3 linked regions of the Homo sapiens genome follow. The protein of the gene in region 2 purifies or fractionates together with the protein of the main gene of each other region. This does not show direct contact. Each region holds a gene or a part of one and is shown on either strand. Other genes may lie near its edges.

Region 1 (7,026 bases), on a different chromosome or scaffold from region 2:
GTGGTACGTGCCTGTAGTCCCAGCTGCTTGGGAAGCTGAGGCAGGAGAATCGCTTGAACCCAGGAGGCAGGAGTTGCAGTGAGCAGAGACTGTGCCACTGCACTCCAGCCTGGGTAACAGAGTAAGACACCATCTCAAAAGAAAAAAAAAAAAAAAAAAAGAACAAAAGGGAACAAGGATAGGAAGCTGTTTTTTGAATTCAGGTATAGTGTGGCAAGCTGTAAAAAAAGCAAGAATTTCACAACTCACCATTAGCTGATTTTAAATCAGGGAGGATGTGATTCACAAAGAACTCAGTTAGGTTTACAAGTTCATTTGCTTGTGTAATTCCATGCTGAAAAGCAAATTCATAACATAGTAAAATAACAAAATACCTGTATATATCTATCACATTAGAAATTCAGGCAATTTTAGAAAACCATGTTAAAATGGAGATGAACACTTCAAAATACAAATTGCTTATGTATAAAATGAGACTGTACTGGCTGTGTACAGGAGCTCACGGCTGTAATCCCAGCACTTTGGGAGGCCGAGGCGGGTAGATCACTTGAAGTCAGGAGTTCAAGACTAGCCTGGCCAACATGGCAAAACCCCGTCTCTACTAAAAACACAAAAAATTAGCCAGGTGTAGTTGCATGCACCTGTAATTCTAGCTACTCGGGAGGCTGAGGCATGAGAATTGCTTGAACCCGGGAGGCAGAGGTTGCAGTAATCTGAGATGTTGCCATTGCATTCCAGCCTGGATGACAGAGCAAGACAACGTCTCAAAAAAAAAAAAAAAAAAAAAAAAAAAGAGAGAGAGGGACACTTCAAAACATGAACTGCTTAGGCTAGGCATGGTGGCTCATGCTTGTAATCCCAGCACTTTGGGAGGCCAAGGCAGGTGGATCACCTGAGGTCAGGAGTTCAAGAACAGCCTGACCAACATGGAGAAACCCCATCTCTACTACAAATACAAAATTAGCCAGGGTGGTGGCGCATGCCTGTAATCCCAGCTACTCGGGAGGCTGAGGCAGGAGAATCACTTGAACCCGGCAAACGGAGGTTGCGGTGAGCCAAGATCGTGCCATTGCACTCCAGCCTGGGCAACAAGAGCGAAACTCCGTCTCAAAACAAAACAAAACAAAACAACAACAACAAAACACAACCTGCTTATGTATAAAATATAAAATAAGACTATACTGTCTAGGCACGGTGACTCACACCTGTATCCCAGCACTCTGGGAGGCTGAGGTGTGAGGATCACACGAGGTCAGGAATTTGAGACCATCCTGACCAATATGGTGAAACCTTGTCTCTACTAAAAATACAAAAATTAGCCAGGTGTGGTAGTGCACACTTGTAATCCCAGTTACTTGGGACGCTGAGGCAGGAGAGTCGCTCGAACTCGGGAGGTGGAGGTTGCAGTGAGCTGAGATCACGCCATTGCACTCCAGCCTGGTGACAAAGTGAGACTCCATCTCAAAAATATAAAAATGTAAAATAAGACTATACTAATAGACAATAAAGAAACTTTCCTCAATTAAAGAACAGCTAAGTTTAAGTTAAGCATATTTGATACAGCGGGTCTCAGCTAAGGTAACAAGTGTGGCCATCTATCAATTTTCTGGTCTATAAGAAACTTAAGTGCTCAATACATCAACATAAAGCCATCTTCAGAGATTATATAAATCTTAATCAGAATAGGTTATCTGGCAGAGTAAGCTCTATTATCAGAGACGTTATTTCTTTTTGACTTGTGTGGGTGTCACTGATGTCTGTTTTAGAAACAAAACCACATTAAAAATATTTACCTTCTGTGTTTGGGCTTTTGATGCCAAAGATGTCACTAGGTAGATGGCTGCATCTTTGTGTTTCCAGTTGACAGATGGATTTTTTGCGTATTCCTGCAGCATGGAATTAACATAACCAGAGAAGATTCCTGTCACAGGTCCCTCAAAAAACTTGCATAATCCTCGTACCAGATCACAAGCAGCCCTGCGTCTAGTATCAATATCTATGAAATGAAAAGAAAATATATTATGGGGAAAAAAAACAACCACCAACAAGCTGATCCAATTTATAAGAAAACAAATTGCCTGGAATAATTTGGCTACGATTGTAAAACGGAAAAAAAAGAACGAAAAACAAAGGGCCACCCAATAGCTATCAGCAACACAAACAATGAAAAAAACATTCCCGCCCCCAAGAAATACAAAATCAAAATGAAACTAAAGAGGTCACAGAATCACAGAATTTTGATAAATACTATGTAAGAACAGACAAATGATTCAACTTTTGATATTTTCATTCAGGTCATATAAGAGCTTTTTAAGACAAGTTGAAGAAAGACAACAGTTCTCAATGAAAGCCCGCTGAAAAAACACTCTTATTCTCAATCCCACTTCTCCCATTTACTAGAAAGAGAACCACCTTAAAACTGGCTTGCTAAGAGACTAGTAACTAAAAAACCAAGATACACACCAGATCCTTCCAAATCTCTCCTTATGTACTCCTCAGAATTATCTTCAAATGCTTCTTCATCAGCAGCTACAAGGAGAGATGATATTTCAGATAACACTCCAAAAGACGTCACTGTACTTTACAGCTGAGAATGCAGAAGAGTATGTAAAACTGCCTTGTTCTACAGCAAAGAATTCGTTCCCATCAGATGACTACTTCATATACTCTTAATCATTATCTAGAGCAGCAAATGCTACCCTGAAAGGTGAGGTATTAGGTAATTCACACAACTATGAGATAGGCTCACTTGTTCTAATGTGACAGTTTCCCCAGAATTGGATTATACCTGCAACTGTCAAAAATGTTAGGGATCAGTATCAGAATGCTAACTTTTAATTTCACCAAATAAGAACATTAAAATACCAACAACCTAATTTTAATCACTATTATTTCATTAAAGTCATTTCAACAACAAATAAGTAGAGTGGACAATGTCAGAAATGGCCGGCATGGTGGCTCACGCGTGTAACCTAGCACTTTGGGAGGCTGAAATGGGAGGATCGCTTGAGCCCAGGAGTTTGAGACCAGCCTGGTCAACACAGCGAGATCTCATCTCTATTTTTATCATATAAATTAAAAAAAAAAAAAAGTCTACACACACACACACACACACACACACACACACACACACACACTGCAGTTGTATGATCATGTCTCACTGCAGCCTCCACCTCCTGAGCTCAAGCAAAACTCCCACCTAAGCTGCTTGAGTACCTGGGACCACAGGCCCATGCCACCATACCCAACTAATTTATTTATTGTAGAGATAAGGTTTTGCCATTTTGGCCAGGCTGGTCTTTAACTCCTGGGCTCAAGTGTTCCTCCCACCTCAGCCTCCCAAAGTGTTGGGATTAAAGGTATGGGCCACCACACCCAGCCAGAAGATTTATCCTTTAAACATATTTTTATGAAAACACAACAGGAAATAAAATCTCACGCTATATTGTCCTTAATTTCCTTATTTTGTTCCAGATGTAATTTGAAAACCACTGATCTAATAACTATTTTGATATAAAACAAAATCTTGGCCTGGCATGGTGGCTCATGCCTGTAATCCCAGCACTTTGAGAGGCTGAGGCAGAAGGATTGTTTGAAGCTAGGAGTTTGAGACCAGCCTGTGCAACATAGGAAGACCCCCATCTTTATAAAAAATAAAAAACTAGCTGAGCATGGTGGTGCACGTCTGTAGTCCCAGCTACTCAGGAGGCCAGGGTGGGACAATGACTTGAGCCTGGGAAGTTGAGGTTGCAGTAAGCCATAACTGTGCTACTGCACTCCAGCCTGGGTGACACAGTGAGACCCTGTCCCCAAAACAAAAAACACAATCCCTCCCACCTTCATTACTTGTTCTTCACAACTGTTAGAACAAGGACATACATTTTATAAATATAGGCTCTTAGCACTATAGTTTAACCTTAAGCACAAACTAAGTGGGCTTCAACCTTGTATTTATAAAGTTATCATTTCTATTCTCAAGTCGATTGTTTAAAAACAGCTATTTCTGGGCGAGGTGGCTCAGAAATGCAATCCCAGCACTTTGGGAGGCTAAAGCGGGTGGACTGCTTGAGCTCAAGAGTTTGAGACTACCCTGAACAACATGGTGAAACCCTGTCTCTACCAAAAATACAAGAAATTAGCCAGGCATGGTGATGTGTGCCTGTGGTCCCAGCTACTCAGAAGACTGAGGTAGGAGGATCACTTGAGCCTGGGAGGCTAAGGTTGCAGTGAGCCAAGATTGCATCACTGCACTCCAGCCTGGGTGACAGAGCGAGACCCCTGTCTCAAATAAATATATAAATAAATAAAGCCAGCTAAAAATTCATTGAAATAATAAATGAAACAAAATCAAATTCTTTCTCTAAATAGAAATTCCAGATAGTTTATCTTCTTAGTGTAAAGGAATTTTTGAAGTCTTATTTAATATTTCCATGAGAAAACCCTCACAGGGCACAACAAAACTCATTACAGATACTACATTTTCTGTCTTGGTTTAGAAAATAAGAAATAAATGACATACAAGTTTTATCCAGTAATAAATGAATTAGACTGAATATGTTACAAAAAACAAACACAGACTTAGTAGATTTATACTAATATACTTTTGCCATAATTACCTCTAAATTCCATGTTAGGCACAATAACCTTTTCACAGATACTTGTCAGCGTGTTCTGGTCCTCAAATAGATTCTTATAATGAGGTCTCTCACAAACTGAAGCCAGAAATTGAATTGCATTACTTACCAACTGGAACAAAACACAAAAACAAGAATATTTTTAAAAGCAAAACTCAACAGCTTATTTCTTGGAGGAGATAGGGAGAGAATGTCTTTTAATTATTTGTCTCCACCATCATCTTACCAAATCATATTTAACCTCTTGACCCGTTGTAACTAGTAAATTCCAGATGGCTGTAACAAAACGAGGCAGGTATCGCTGGAATTCTTCATCGTACTTTTGTGCATAGAGTGCGGCATTATCACAAATCTGGGATTTTAAGAGCTCCAATAAGCCGGCTTCCTCTTCATCCTCACATAAAAGAAAACAAAAACTCCAACATACAACTCTAATGCTAACATAAGTAAGAGGAGTAACTGAAATTCCTGAACTAGACTCTTTATCAATTAAATCCAAATCAAATCAGTTATTGTAAACTACAGCTATGCCACCACCAATCTTTTCACCAAGTCTTTCAAATAAGTTGCTGAATTACAAAATATTTCCGTATTAGATTCAAACAGTATATTCTGGCTGAGTGTAGTGGCTCACGCCGGTAATCCCAACCCTCTGGGAGGCTGAGGCTGGAGGATGGCCTGAGGCCAGGAGTGGTTTTTTTTTTTTTTTTTTGAGACGCAGTCTCCCTCTGTTGCCCAGGCTGGAGTGCAGTGGCGCGATCTCAGCTCACTGCAAGCTCCGCCTCCTGGGTTCACGTCATTCTCCTGCCTCAGCCTCCCAAGTAGCTGGGACTACAGGCACCCGCCATCACGCCCGGCTAATTTTTGTATTTTTTTTTTTTAGTAGAGACGGGGTTTCACCGTGTTAGCCAGGATGGCCTCGGCCTCCCAAAGTGCTGGGATTATAGGCGTGGGCCACTGCGACGGGCCAAGCCCAGGAGTTTTGAGTCTAGCCTGGGCAACACAGCAAGCCCCCAAAATAAAAAAAATCAGCTGGGCATGGTGGTGCATACCCATAGTCCCTGCTACTTGGGAGGCTGAGGTGGGAGGATCACTTGAGCCCAGGGAGGTCGAAGCTGCAGTAAGTCATGATCATGCCACTGCACTCCAGCCTTGGTGACAGAGTGAGACAAGGGAAGACATCAGAGTAAGAACAAAAACCAAAGCCAAAACCAAAACTCCCTCACACTGATTACTTAAGGCATAAATAGTAGCACAAGGTAGCACATGGTTAACTGGGCAAAAAGGTCCTTGTAAGAATTCTATCCAAAAAATTTCCTTGTGACTTTTGTGTGAAGAAAAGTTTTGTTTTCTGAAGGAGTGTTTTTCCCTCCCATTGGACTGAAATAATTATTTTATGAGAGCTACATCTTTTAAAGTTCCTATTAATATAGTCAAACTCTGAGACAAAATCTGTTGTACAACGATAGTAACAATTTCTTTCTGTACCCCACTCTTAAAACCTGATTTGAATCACCAATTCTAATTTTTAGTTTATTTGGTATTGAAATATTTTTAATATTTTGTCTTTTGTCTCTTCGGAAAGAAGGTCATAAATATATTAACAAATGAGTAGCACAGAATAAGTGTTATATGTTTAAAAGTACACAATATAAAACCCATATCAGAAATATTTACAAATTACAATCTTTTACCATTTTCTCTCTTTCTCGAGCTGTGGATAATTTTTTCTTTTTCTGAGACGAGGTCTCCCTCTGTCTCCCAGGCTGGAGTGCAGTGGCATGGTCACAGCTCATTGCAGCCTTGCCCTCCTGGGCTCAAGGTCAAGGGATCCTCACAACTAAGCCTTCTGAGTAGCTGTGACCATTAGCATGAGCCAACACATCTGGCTAATTTTATTTTTATTTTTTGTAGTGATGGGGGTCTCCTTACATTGCCAAGGCTGGTCTTGAACTCCTGGGCTCAAGGGATCCTCCCCACCTTGGCCGCCCAAAGTGCTGGGATTACAGGTGTGAACCACCATGCCTAGCCAGATGATTTTTAAAAAGGGGCTACCATTATAGAGTTTTAAGTTTTCTTAGTATCTTCAATGAAAAATAATTTTATTTCATGAAATATCCATAATGTCACTACTTTAAAGACCTACTTTCAATAATGTAATGAAACAGCCTTATATGTACACTATGGCTTAAGCCAAGCCCATGATAAGAGTAATTCTGTATACTACACACACCAAACATGTAACATCAAATAGAATCAAATATTATTACAGTATTGAAATTTTATCTTTTAACAATGCAAGAGTAAATAGGTTTCCAGACTGTAGCCAAATAACTCTTAATGAAAGAAAAAGACCACTCAGGCAACATTTTAAATACTTACATCAGTTTGT
Region 2 (7,026 bases):
GAACTTGAAGTCCAGGAGTGTGTTCCTCCGAGCCCTGCCTGGCAATTTTTTGATGACTTCAAAAGCACATGGAAATGTGTGTTTGAGTGGTTTCCCAACTCCACCCTCTGAAGTGCATTCTGCATTTATGTTAAGATGACACACATGCATCTTATGTATGATACGATGACATGTATGTACTTAAGTGAAGTCGTGTGTGCATGTGTGTAAGGAGAGGTAGAGAGGAGACTCTAGGGAATACCATGGCCAGGGGCAGCGACCAGGCTCTGCTGCCCACAGCTGCGGGTACTGGGGGGGTGCAGCCTGTGTCCACCCCACCTGGAGGGCTTCGGGCTGGGGGCTCACCTGCAGTGCACGGTGATGGGGTGGTTGCCTGTCTGCTGCTGCTGCTTCTGCACGGCTGCGATGAGGTCAATCATGCCTTTGCCCTCGGCGGGAATCCCGATCTCAGGCCAGCCGTGGAAGTGAAACTGGCGCACTACTCGGACCTGCTCCTCCTGGCGGGCCTGGGGCTGCAGGGAGGAGAGGGGGTCTCAGCGTCGCCTGCCTGCCGGGGAACAGGCCCCAGCCCCATCTGCCCTCTCAGGGATTGGCCAAGGCTGGGAGCCCTCCCTGAGCCTTCTGTGCTGCCAACATCCCCACCGAGGCAGCCTGAAGGAGAAGGCTGAAACCTGCTTGTCCTAAAGAAGAAGGCAGGTGGCTGGCTGTGCTTCCTTCTGCAAGGGGGAGCGAGCCGTCCAGAGGACATCCCCTGGATCCCTGTGAGGACTGCCCAACCCCTACGGGATCCTTGGCAGCTCTGCTGGAGAGAAGGGAATCACTTTCTCAAGAAACCAGGGCCCTGCATTTCCCTTCAGAGCTCAAATGAGCAGCATCTGAGTCTGGTGGCCAGGGTGGCTCTGTGGCTGGCATGGAGGAGACAGTGGCAGGTGCATTACGTGATACTGACTGTTTGGAGCTCAGCATCAAGACCTGTGTACAAGTGAGTCATCCTACCTACAGCTGACCCCGAGTTCTCATTCTTTGCCAAGGAGAGAGGATGAGCAGAACCAAGGACCCAGTGGAAATGGGGACAGTTGGGGGGCTCTGAGAAGGCACCTGGAGGAGGGCCCCAGAGAGGCCCCTGTGGCTTCATTAGTCCCCTTTGTTCTTCCTCTTACAGCTAATGGCTAATGTAATTCTCCTGAGAGATAAATGGGAGGTAGGCAGCTAGGGAGATGGGAATTGTACAGGAGGCCTGCCACTGTCTCTGAAACCCATTGGCCATTCATAGCCAATGGGACTAGGTGAAGGAGCAGGACAGGTGCAGGGCCACATTCTGGTTCAATGACAAGCAGAACCCAGAGGGAGGGCGTGGTTCACTAAATTCACAAGCGTTTAAAGAGCTACTTCAACAATACCTGATTGAGAGTGACCAGAAAGTCTCGTATACTGATGGCTTCTGAAAGGGTATCATTCTTTATCTCAATCGTTATTTCTCCATGAGTAACTGAGCCCTCGGTTGGCCAATACTGGTAGCATTTATCCTTAGGGGATAAAATAAAAATTTAAGTCTTGTAATAAATAATTTGCTGCTGGCGATTTTGAGTTTATAACACAGAATTGTTCTCAAACCAGTTAATGTATTTCATCTGACCAAAAAAAAAAACATATGAATATGAATATAAATGCCTGTTAATGCTTGTTGACCCAGGGAACAGAACAGAGTCTAGAAACAGACACATATATATATGAAACCTTAACATATGGCAGAAAGGAGAGATTCTTCAATATGTGGGGCTGGAAAAATTGGTTTTCTACCTGGGGAAAATGAAATTGGATCCCTGACTCATTCCCTACCAGGGTTGATGTGAGTGCCCCCAGCTCTTCCTAGAACTGGGCAGTGTACACCCTGCACTTCCACGTGTCATGGCCTTGAACCTTAATAAAAATACACCCAGATGGAGTAAGGTTTAAGGTAAAAAACAAAACTGTGAAACTCTTGGAAGAAGAAATATCTTTTCACTTTGAGGTACACAAGGATTACTAGACAAGAGCCCAAACAGCTAACCAATCACGATGCAACAATTTGAAACATTGGATTACAGTAACATTCACTTCTCTTCATCAACAAACATCATTAACAGAGTGAAAAGACACGCCACAGATTGCAATAAGATGTTTGCAATACATAAAACCAATAAAGAATTAGTATCAAGATTACGTAAAGAGCTCCTATAAATCAATAAGAAAGGACAAACAATAGAAAAATCAGTGAAAGGCAGGAACAGGCATTTGACACAAGAGGAAATATGTCATCCACAAATATATGAAGTGATGGGGTTGACCTTGGAATCAGAATGATGCAAATCAGAGCCACAAAAAGATAGTATTTATACAATAATTATACAATGAACAATATTTTGTTAATTTTCAATTAACAATAATTAGGACACCTTGAGAATACCATACTAGGTATGTAGATGAATGATATCTCTTATACATTGTTGATGTCCACTTTGGAAAGCAATTAGGAATTATCTTGCAAATTCAAACTTTCACATACTCTTCAATGAAGCATTTTGGCTCTTTGATACATCTTAGTCCTAGTGCAGCATAAGACATGTACAAGAATATACAGGTAGGGAGAACACAAGGACACAGGGAGGGGAACAACACACACTGGGGCCAGTTGGGGGGTGGAGGGTGAGGGGAGGGAGAGCATTAGGACAAATAGCTAATGCATACAGGGCTTAAAACCTAGATGATGGGTTGACAGGTGCAGCAAACTACCATGCACATGTATACCTATGTAACAAAACTATACATTCTGCACTTGTCTCCAGAACTTAAAGTTTTAAAAAAAGAATGTACAGGTAGCACTGTTTGTAAAACAACGAAATGAAACCAACTCAAGTGCCCATGACAGGAGAAGGAATACCTGAGCTAATGCAGGATATAGTTTGTGCAGTGGAATATAATGAAATAATGATGACGAATGAACCACAGCATAAGCATCAACATAGAATATCAAAAGCACAATTTTGAGTGGAAGAAGCAAGTCTCAGAAGACAACATGCTGTAATGATGCTCTTTCTATAAAGTTCAAACACAAGTAAAACTAAACAACAGTCTACGTAGGCATAAACAGATGTGATTTTAAAAGATGTTTTAAAAAAGCAAAGAACATATCCACTAGGATGGCTTTAATCAAAAAGACAATGACAATGTTGGTGAGGATGTGGAGAAATTAGAACCTTATATATTGCTGGTAGGAATGTAAAATGGGGCAGCTACTGAGGAAAACAGTCTGGCAGGTCCTCAAAAATGTTAAACAGTAAGTTTATGACATAGAGTTATGACGTGACCTAGCAATTCCGCTCCTAGTATATACACTCCTAGGCGTATACCCAAGGGAAGTGAAAAAGCATGTCCATACAAAAACTACTACCTGAATGTTCAAGAAACTTTTTTTTTTTTTTTGAGACAGAGTCTTGTTCTGTCCCCCAGGCTGGAGTGCAATGGCGCGATCTCAGCTCAATGCAACCTCTGCCTCCCAGGTTCAAGCGATTCTCCCTGCCTCAGCCTCCCAAGTAGCTGGGATTGCAGGTTCCCGCCACCATGCCCAGCTAATTTTTGTATTTTTAGTAGAAGCGGGGTTTTGCCATGTTGGCCAGGCTGGCCGCGAACTCCTGACCTCAGGTGATCTGCCCGCCTTGGACTCCCAAAGGGCTGGGATTACAGGTGTGAGCAACCGCACCAAGCAAAGCAGCACTATTTATAATAGCTCCAAAGTGGAAACAACCTAAATGTCCATCAACTGATGAATGGATATGCAGAGTGTAGTATATCCACACAAGCAAATACTATTTGCCAGTAAAAAAGAATGATTTACTGATTCATGCTACAACATAGATGAACCTTGAAAGCATGATGCTAAGTGAAAGAACCCAATCACGGAAGACCACATACTGTATGATTCCATTTATAATAATGTCCAGAATAGACAAACCCATAGTCAGGAAGCAGATTAGTGGTTGCCAGGGGTTAGGGGAAGGAAGGAATGGGGAGTGACTGTTAATGGTACGAGGTTTCCTTTTGGGTTGATGAAAATGATCACAGATTAGATAGTGGTGGTGGTTGCACAACTCTGTGAATATACTCCAATTCACTGAATTGTACCCTTTAAAAAGATGAATTGCATGAATTATAGGTGAATTATATCACAATAAAGCTGTTCCTTTTTAGAGCAAAGAAATAAAAACACAAATACACAGCAGTAGTTATGTCTTGGGGGAGAACCCAGATAGATGTACATTGTTGGTAAACCTTGGGTTTACTGTTGTCTTCATGTCTTGAAAAAAGTCAATAAATGTCTTTTTCTTCAACAGGTTATGATCTTGGCCAATACCAAATGGCAGAATTTCAGGGCAGGTTAAATAACATGTAGGCTAAGGATAAAGGGCAGCGGGTAGCTATGGTTAAACCTCACTCCCAAAAAGGGAAAGGGTGAAATGAAACCTTTTTCATTTCCAATCTCTCTCCTTCCCTAGTGGTCCTGGCTTGGTCTCACCCATGTGTTTGCAGTGATGGCAGGTGGGACATTTGTAATGAACGGGGACAGTGCCTCAGGTGCACAGGCTGCCCTGGAGGGACCGGGCTGGGCGGCACTCCTCACCTGCTCTCTCTCCTGCACCTCCGTCAGCATCACGATAGTGTGGGATTTCCATTCCCAGATCATCCTCCAGAAGTCCTCAACCGTGTGTGCCAGTGGCCCCTGGGTGGCGATGAAATAGTCCTTCTGTCGGTAGCCCTTCAAATGGAGGCGCAGAGGTTAGAGTCTGACTTCCTTCCATCCTGGCTCCATTACCTGCTCCCTAAGTTTAGGACAGCCTAAGGCCTAATGAGGAAAACTCTCTCATCCTCCATGGTCTGCACCAGACCCCAGTTGGCACGAGCACTCAGGCACACACCTGACAAGCAGGTCAAGAAGCTCGCTTATCTGAAACCATAACGGCCACCGTCAGCCCCTGAGGTCATCAACAAATGGGTATTATGAACTGGTAGTTGCCTGTGGCCACCTGAACAGCACCTGGTGGCTTAGATTCTAACATGTTTCTGTGTGTTTCAGCTAGATCAGCATGGAGCCCACCGGATTCTGGTACAATTTTCTCATCTGCAAATGGCAATATGAACACACACTTGGCTGCCATTCCCCCTTTTGCCCTTCTTCTGCGAACTCCACTGTGCATGAAGACAGCCTCTGTGTGCCCTGAACACATAATTGTATTGTCCACGTGGGTACACATTGCAGAAATCACACAAGAGAAAGAGCACAGAGGCAGTGGATATATAATTGGTGTGTAACAGATATGTAAAAGAAAAATAACTATATATTAAAAGCAGAATGAAAAAAGAGCCAATTACTTAGCAGCGAGTCTATGTCCTTCTATTTCCAAAGTCCACTTTTTTTTTTTTTTTTTTTTTTTTTTGAGAGGGGGTCTCGCTCTCACTCTGTTGCCCAGGTTGGAGTACAGTGGTGTAATCTCAGCTCACTGCAACCTCAGCCTCCCGGATTCAAGCAATTCTCCTGCCTCAGCTTCCCAAGTAGCTGGGATTACAGGCACCTGCCATCACGCCCAGCTAATTTTTGTATTTTTAGTAGAGACGGGTTTTGCCATATTGGCCAGGCTAGTTTCAAACTCCTGACCCCAAGTGATCTGCCCGCCTTAGCTTCCCAAAGTGTTGGGATTACAGGTGTGAGCCATCGTGCCTTGCCACTTTTTTTTTTAAGCAAGTAATTCTGCTAACAAAAATGGCTGAGTTTCTGGAAACATGTCAATTCTTTCTCATTGTGAAAACAAGCTAATCAAGTCTGTGGTCACATGTGAAGGAAACACATCTGCATAAACACAACCCAGGCCAGCATACGTACGTCTATGAAGGATGCGTTGATGTAGTCTGTGTATTCTTGACCCCTTTTCATGGAAAGGATCACTCGGTTGAAGTCATCTGCAAAGCATTATCTTCCTTTAGTTATTACAAAAAGGGTCCCACCTTGCTAACTTTAATCCATTGCTACAAGCTTGCAAAATATAGATCCTATTAATAAAATCACTACGTAAAGCCAACTCTTTGGAAAGTTTACGTTATGAGAGACGATAATTAAAGTGGCTCAGGGGTATTTTTCTTTTTGAAGGAAAACTCTGAAAACCACCCAATTATCATTTTCATTTTTCAGGAATCGATATAATACATACCAAAATACAAGCACTAAAAATATTGCGCTGAAGGAGTAAATGGAATGTGGCCAGGCAAGCAATCTAGAGTGGCCAGCAGGACACCGGGGCCCCAGAAAACCAAGGGCCAGAGTCTGAAGATGGCAGCACCCCGGGGAGCTCTACTCGCCTGCAGTGCTCGGGGAGACCCTGCTGCAGCAGGCCTGCTCCCAGCTGTTTCCAGATGGTGTTTGTTGAGCTGTGACTCTGTCGAGGACAAGTCTATAACGAGGCACACCCTCCTCCCAAGCGGGGCATCTCCCACCTCCCTCCCTAGTTCCTCGGATCCCTGTGGAGTCTGCTTTGGGGCCGGGTTTCTCAAGTTTCTCTTTTTCCCACTTGGTGAGCCTCCCGATTCCCACTCCCCTGCCCACTGCATGTGGCCCTGTCTTCTTGCCAGCTTTGCCTCCACTCCTCCCACACCTGCCAGGTCCTCCTTCCCTCTCCCATGACCTGGGTGGCAGACCAGTGTCCTGACTCTACCCTAGGCCCATTTCTTGTCCTCCTCAAGGCCACAGCCTTTTCCTAGGTGGTCTCAGCTGAGTTCACCTGCATGGCCTCGGCTGGGTGGCTCAGGCCCCTCTGTGTAAGGGGGAGGCGGGCCTCTGCCCAGGCTTGGGGAGACAAGGAATGAGACAAGGAATCCCAAGTCGTGCCTGCCGCAAATCTCCAGCTTCTGTGAAGCCCTCCCCTGAAATCAGCCTCGGCTGCCCTCCCGCATCTGCAAGCTCATATCCGAAGCAGCTTGCCTGAGACCCATGCAGGACTG
Region 3 (7,026 bases), on a different chromosome or scaffold from region 2:
CTTCTAACAGAGATGGCCACCCTGAAAGACCCAAATAATGGTGCTGGAAAGGACACTGTCAAATACTGTCAGGTAGTTTTGCTACTGAGGCAGCCACTCATCCAGCACAAGGACTATAAAAGCAAATCAATCCTTTTAACAGAACAAGAACACAGTTACAGGTGCTACCACATTAACAGACTGTGAAAGTACAAAGTCTTTAGTGATTGTGCCTTGGGAAATAAATGGGTCAAGGAAAATAAAATGAGAAACAAACAAAGGATGTATGGAAAACTAGAGGTTAAAGGATACTATATGAACAACAGAAATTTTATAAAACAAAAATCTAAAAATGAAATACTTGACAGTGTCCCTTTGACATATATAAAAGAGGGCACAAATAATGTTTTTGTTTTAAAAAATATTTTAACAACAGTTTTAATAGAAAAAAAATCAACTGACTTGAATTAAGCCAGTGTTCTTGACACCCACTGGGCCAAGAGCATTAAAACAAAACAAGACCGGAGAAGTTAATAAACACAGCTAAAGACAAAATTGGACAAAATAAAACAAAAGAAAACACAAAGTGAATAAGCATCCAATCAGGCAAACATGGACACAACCACCCTGAAAAGGTCTAGCCGTTGCAACTCAGTGGCATCCCCATCACCTAAAAAATGGTAGTGGCTTCTCCCCACCCCAGTGAGCTAATATTCAACATTCTGCTGATCTTATAAGTATTATTTGGTCCAATCTGAAGAAGGTCTTTTTAAACTAAAACTAGTCTAATGAAATTACACCTCAGGAATATGGAGGTGAAATTTTCTATTTTTAGTATTGTAATAGGATCTGGGCAAATTTTGCAAATATGTTGCCATCTGGATAAAAGTTATTAAATATAGATGCCTTTTTACTTACCAAGGCATTCCTTTCCCACTCCTCTTTAGTTTTAATAACTTGATTATAGTTTTGTCATGGCGCGTGGACCTGTCCAGTCAATTGTGTGTTTCAGTGCCCTTTGGTAAAGAGACTGTACTTAGCACACACACAGATACACATAATTCACAACAGCTGAGAAAGCTTGAGGGATCTGGGAAACACAAAACACCAAGAACAATGCAAAACAAATAGATTACTGCTGCATATCACTTCAAGTTTTTTAAGGGGAAAAAAAAAACACCTAAAAATAAATGCATCAAAGTATTTTTTAAAATACAGAAACGTGTACTTCTGGATGACTGATATTAATTTCCTTCCTAGCAGTCTTTTCAAGATGTTTTTGCTTCCCCTTAATTGTGACTCAAAGCTAATCAAATTGAGAGAAATGTAAGTTATGGCCCAAGGCCCTGCATTCACATCTACCTAACATCACATGCACAGGTTGGATGTAATTCAGATGCTCCAGTTTTGTTAACTGTTAATAACACAGAATTATACAAAGTTTTGCACAGCATCACATGTAATGACACATATGCTATATGCAATCAGGTAGAAAAACCGTATTTGCAGAATGGTTTAATAGATAGGTGTCAGGAACATGGTGGAAGCAGAGTTTCATGAGTGCACCTGTGCCAGAGTCCTCTACCTGTCACTGTGCTGTGAAAGTACTGCAATGAGTGGAGTTTCATATGCCTGCTGTGTATAAATTAGCTTTCATTTCCACATTGTAAGCTGGCACACTGAATTAGGGGAGCCTGGCAGCTGTATAAAAATCCTGATTAAGAGATCAAACTAGAGGATCTAAAGTGAATTTTTAATCTCTGAAATTAAATTCACTGGCTCCCATGTCTGGATAAGAATTATTGCCCCTAATGCCCCAACGTGCAATAGTCTGTGTGAATCAGTGATTCACATCCTTTAAAATAATTATTGCTTAAGCAAGCCATTTAGAGTAGATATGGGCTATGTGGCTGGATAGAAACACACTCAAAAAGTTAGACTAGACGGAAACAAGCCTTTCATTTCACTGATAAACCTACATAAATACACGATCGAAAGGGGCAACAGGTTCATAGCAGCTAACACCCTAAACCAACTCTGAAGCATCAAGACGTGGTTTCTTACTAAAACAAATCAGCTGTTTTTGTATTTTCCTCTTAAAATTAAGGCAATGAAATGGCTACAGTTCCTAAGGTTATTTTTACGGAACAAAAATATACATGTATTTTCCTCCTCAAGTTCAGGCATCAGAGTATGATTAGTGACTTGTATTACACAAAACCTGCAGCACTGGGTTGATGTGAGAGAGAGAGAGAAAAGAAAGAGAGAGACAGAAAGCAAGAAAAGCAAGAAAGCAAGCAAGCAAGAAAGCAAGCTAAGAAAAAGCCAACAAACCCCTGGTGATGTTTCCCCTTCCTGCTGAATTATAAAACCCAATCATCAAAGGGAGGAAAAGCTAGAAAGCACAAAACCTCTTAAGAGTTTTCAATGTCTCTTTCATTGATTCAAAACTTTTGGGGTGACGAAAGGGAGAAGCTTATTAACATGAAGACTCCTGGGCCCAACAACCAGACATTCTGACTCTGAAGGTCTACAGTTGGGCCTAAGAATCTGCCTTTTCACCAGCTCCTCAAGTGATGCAGGCGATCTATGGAGATTTTGAGAAACACTGCCTAGCATATATCCATTTCATATTTAATGACAAAAATTCTAAACTTTGGCTAGCCACCTATGTTAAAAGGAAAAAAGGCACTGCATATGTATTTCGTGGTGCCCATATCTGTTTGCACATATATGGAATTTCATTTTGAAAATTTTAAATCACCATTCAGAATCTAAAAGACATATATATGACAGATTGTGGCTAACACTTAACAGCAGAAGCTGATGCCAAGTTGACCTCTCCTGTTTCACTGTATTACATACATATCAAAGTTTCAGGCTCTCCAAAATCCAAAATGGCCAAATGAACTGAGGAATAGGACAAGACTCAAGTCAACTTTCAGCAATTCAGTGCACTTTGCAGAAAGGATCTAAATTAAGCATAAAGTTCTGTTGTTTATTTTACACAAAGGAGACCACCAACATTTGCCATAAATTCTTCTAAACTCTTTAAGAAGGCCATCTTCTGCTTCCGATCCAGCGTAGGAGGAGTGCTGCTTGCAGTGAGCTTGTTGAAGGCATCTGCTAATCTCTGGTAAATAACTGGGTCTTGCTGACTTGATAGTAATGTTTCGACCAGTTCAGAATATTCAGCCTATTGAAGAGATAAAGTATACACAAGTATCCTCCTTAGAATATCATACAAGTAGATCTTATCAGTTACTGGACTGTGGGGTTCTAAAAGGCAGGGACACATTTTTAAGAGTTAACATTTAGAATAATTCAGCATTTAAGTACTACTGTTTGAAAACCTTTTACATGGATTAATTCATCTATCATTTACAACAATGCTTCGAGACAGGTACTGTTTCTATTCCCATTCCAGAGGTGAAGGTTTCGACACTCAGTGAGGTGAAGTGATATGGCCCAGATCAAGCAAGAGTCCACCAATCTAGCCCCAAGACCCATGTGATAATCAACTTTGTTGTGCTGCCTCTTCAAAGCACATTATTCCTATTTATGTTGCGTTTGACACATAATCTAAGTCTGCAATAGTTCCCCAGAGGTTAATAGAGATATCTGGTCCACCCAGTTCTGAGGACAGCAATGTGCACAAAGACAGGACAGGCAGGAGTCTTTTGGGAGGACGGGGCGGAGAAATATATTCCAGTGCCTTCTCCAAGTGGAGCAGGGCACTCTGAAAGCTCCAAACCAGCACTGTGCCCAGCAGCTCTTAGAGAAAGGGCAGGAAGAGGACTTTAGTAAATATAGGAATATGGGAAATTTTCTGTTTTTAATACTCTATTATAAAGCCTTATAAAGGAAAGTGGAAGAAGGTGTGGGCTTAAGGGAAATTCAACCAGGACAGAGGTAAGCTCTCAAAAAAAGCTGGCCTGGCCAAGCATAGTGGCTCAGGCCTTTAATGCCAGCACTTTGGGAGGCTGAGGAGGGATGACTGTTTGAGCCCGGGAATTTGAGACCAGCCTGAGCAACACAGTGAGATCCCACCTCTACAAAAAATTTAAAAATTAGGCAGTTGTGGTGGTGCACAGCTGTAGTCCCAGCTACTTGGGAGGCTGAGATGGGAGATCGCTTGAGCCCAAGAGGTTGAGGCTGCAGTGAGCCATGGTTGCTCCACTGCACTCCAGCCTGGGCAACAGAGTGAGATCCTGTCTCACTGCAACCTCTGTTTCCTGGGTTCAAGTGATCCTCCTACCTCAGCCTCCTAAGAGCCTGGGACTACAGGCATGCACCACCATCCCTGGCTAATTTTTGAATTTTTAGTAGGGACAGGGTTCTGCAATGTTGAGCAGGCTGGTCTCAAGCTCCCAGCCTCAATCAATCCACCCACCTTGGTCTCCCAAAGTGCAAAAATTACAAGCATGAGCCACTGCACCTGGCATGCTGTAATTTTTCATTGGCTTCTTGGGATATCATGATAGACCAAAATGGTGAAACCAAATGTTAATTACATTTGGAAAAGAAGGATAAGGTGCAGCATCCCAATCCCCAACCATGGAGCCAGAGTGGCTCCCCTAATTGCCTTATCAAAGGGACAGTCCTGTTCACAGGGGACCAAGTATAATCTCCTATCATTTCCCTACTCATGAGAAATGGTAGAGGTGGCAAGGCATGGTGGCTCACACCTGTAATCCTAGGCACTTTGGGAGGCCGAGGCGAGTGGATTGCTTAAGTTCAGGAGTTCGATACAAGCCTGGGCAACATGGTGAAACTCCGTCTCTACAAAAAATAAGCCAGGTGTGGTGGTGCACACCTGTAGTCCCAGCTACTTGGGGAGCTGAGGCGGGAGGATTGCTTGAGGCCAGGAGGCCGAGGCAGGAGTTAGCAGTAATTGCACCACTGCACTCCAGCCTGGGTAATAATAAAGTGAGACCCTGTCTCAGAAAAAAAAAAAAAGCGAGATAGTAGAGCCTCTGGGGCCAGGCAGCAAGTATCATACTGGCCATTCCTGAAACCTGCTCTTTCCTGCAGTGTGTAAATATGTTAAAAGAGAGGGAGAGAGAGAAATAAAGGAAGAGAAGGAAGGAAGGAAGAAAGGAAGGGAGGAAGAGACAAGAGGGTGGAAGGGAACGGGGGAGGAAAGGAGGGAGGGAGGGAGGGAGAAAGAAAGAAAGAGGAGGGAGGAAGGAAGGAAGAAAGGAAAGAAAAGAAAAATGAAAGAAAAAGATAGAAAAAAGAAAAGAAAAAGAGAGGAAGGAAGGAAGGAAGGAAGGAAGGAAGGAAGGAAGGATCAGACAAGACGACTACCTTGCTAGTAAGCAACAAGTAAGACAAATGACAGAGAAAGGGCACAGATTTGAGAGCAGGTACCACCTGCAGGAAGTGGCAGCCTAGGGCAGAGAGCAAGAAATGAAGCCCCAGGGCACCTTCAGCTTAGGGCACAGATGTTACGGGAAGTCTAGAGAAAGGAGGTCTTTAAATAGTATGGAAGACCTCCTCTAAACCCTTTTTTAAAGATGGAAATAAAACGCCAAAGCTTCTTGGCCATGCTGGGAGGTATATATATATATACGTGTGTGTGTATATATATATATATATATATGTACCTTACATATATATGTGTGTATATATATGCATGGGAGAGGAAAAGGGGAAACAGAGGCAGCAAACTGTTCAATACGGTCCTTTTCATAAATTTCACAGGCACCTATTCGATCAGAAGTGGGGAGACAGGTAAGCTAGCCTAACTCTTCTATTAACCCCATTATCAGTGATGCTTCAGAATCTTTAAAAGATCAACAAAATGAAATAATATACTGTTTTCTATAATATGCAATAAAATACTGTCTTCCATACTGTCTGAAGGCAGACTCTTCCTTGTCTGCCATCCTGTCTCCCTTACAAAAAACCATGAGTTCTTCACACACCCATTATGTATTCCTCATTCCTAGCACAGTTGTTTAAGGACAGGCTTTGGGGCAGTGACCATTGCAAAGGATGGTTCATAATGGTGGAGGACAAAAAATAAATGCTTTGAACTGACAAACAGCTGTCAGATAAACACAAACTGACATGTGAAAGCTAATAAAGAAGCTAAGAAATACTTCCTCACTGAAACAGAACTGAAGCACTGAGTCACAGATCCTATAAGGGGGGATTAATGACCCACCATCTATCTCAACAATCTCTTTGCAAAATAGAATGAGAAGAGTCCCCTGAAAAGAGGCATGTCCAGTACCTGGTGCAAACACACCAACGTGTAGAAAGCTTCGCCAGCCGCAGTGGTCATCTCTGTGTTGTGCTTTTGCAAAACCAGCATATCAAAAACCAGCTGAAATTACATAAGACTTCTAAATAAAAACATAGGATGATCATATATCCTCCAGTCCCTCCCCAGTCCAAAAAAGAAGAAGAGAGGGTTGGTTGTTATTCTATTTATTAAATCAATCTGAAATTTTCCTTAATGTTTTAAAAAAAATACCTTACAGATATTGCTACTTGCTGTGGTATCTGAATAATCAACAATATCAAATTCCCTCAATGTGTACCACATCAATTTCCAAGAACACAAAAAATAGAGGATGAGAATGTGTCCATGAAGAGCTGATCTCCAGAAAAAAACAGTGAACAGGAAGTCATGGTTTCCTTGCCCCCGAAAGAATGGAAGCATTTCCTCATTTGAATGCAGAATTATGTGCACCGACCACACTTTTGAAAGTAGCTGATTTTCTGACCTACCGCACAGACATCTTACCTTAAGAAAGTGCCGTGTTGCTAGAAAAAGTGGTGAGTCTGTTTCTTGTGCTTTTGCACACTGTTCAGCTAACGGTGTCAAGGCCTCCAGGCAAAGCTGGCAAACCTCCGAACTCATTCTGATCATGAAGGTCAAAGAACAAACTAGATTGGATATATTCGATTTATAAAAGATAAAAAAATTATAGCTAGTATTAAATGGATGAGTGTTTCTAGAAATGAATACAGATACACAAGTAGACTCATGGGCAATATCTTCACTGAGTTATATAAGGAAAGAAGATTTCCAGT

The links. Proteins that work in one complex are often made in the same cells at the same time.
Region 1: the proteins of PTPRE (region 2) and CSE1L purify together in Homo sapiens (affinity purification with mass spectrometry; 2 studies listed by BioGRID and IntAct, with this or other methods). This does not show direct contact.
Region 3: the proteins of PTPRE (region 2) and XPO4 purify together in Homo sapiens (affinity purification with mass spectrometry; 2 studies listed by BioGRID and IntAct, with this or other methods). This does not show direct contact.

What each region holds. Positions count from the first base shown.
Region 1 is NC_000020.11:49,070,288-49,077,313, reverse strand, and holds part of CSE1L (exportin-2), read right to left. Parts: coding exon 7,017-7,026; intron 5,029-7,016; coding exon 4,861-5,028; intron 4,747-4,860; coding exon 4,617-4,746; intron 2,530-4,616; coding exon 2,464-2,529; intron 1,997-2,463; coding exon 1,794-1,996; intron 335-1,793; coding exon 250-334; intron 1-249. UniProt on the Homo sapiens protein: Export receptor for importin-alpha. Mediates importin-alpha re-export from the nucleus to the cytoplasm after import substrates (cargos) have been released into the nucleoplasm.
Region 2 is NC_000010.11:128,071,103-128,078,128, reverse strand, and holds part of PTPRE (receptor-type tyrosine-protein phosphatase epsilon isoform 1 precursor), read right to left. Parts: intron 6,465-7,026; coding exon of another isoform or gene 6,463-6,464; exon of another isoform or gene 6,401-6,462; intron 5,992-6,400; coding exon 5,915-5,991; intron 4,793-5,914; coding exon 4,658-4,792; intron 1,527-4,657; coding exon 1,401-1,526; intron 513-1,400; coding exon 346-512; intron 1-345. UniProt on the Homo sapiens protein: Isoform 1 plays a critical role in signaling transduction pathways and phosphoprotein network topology in red blood cells. May play a role in osteoclast formation and function.
Region 3 is NC_000013.11:20,780,745-20,787,770, forward strand, and holds part of XPO4 (exportin-4), read right to left. Parts: intron 6,855-7,026; coding exon 6,737-6,854; intron 6,314-6,736; coding exon 6,221-6,313; intron 3,176-6,220; coding exon 2,978-3,175; 3' UTR 1-2,977. UniProt on the Homo sapiens protein: Mediates the nuclear export of proteins (cargos), such as EIF5A, SMAD3 and isoform M2 of PKM (PKM2). In the nucleus binds cooperatively to its cargo and to the GTPase Ran in its active GTP-bound form.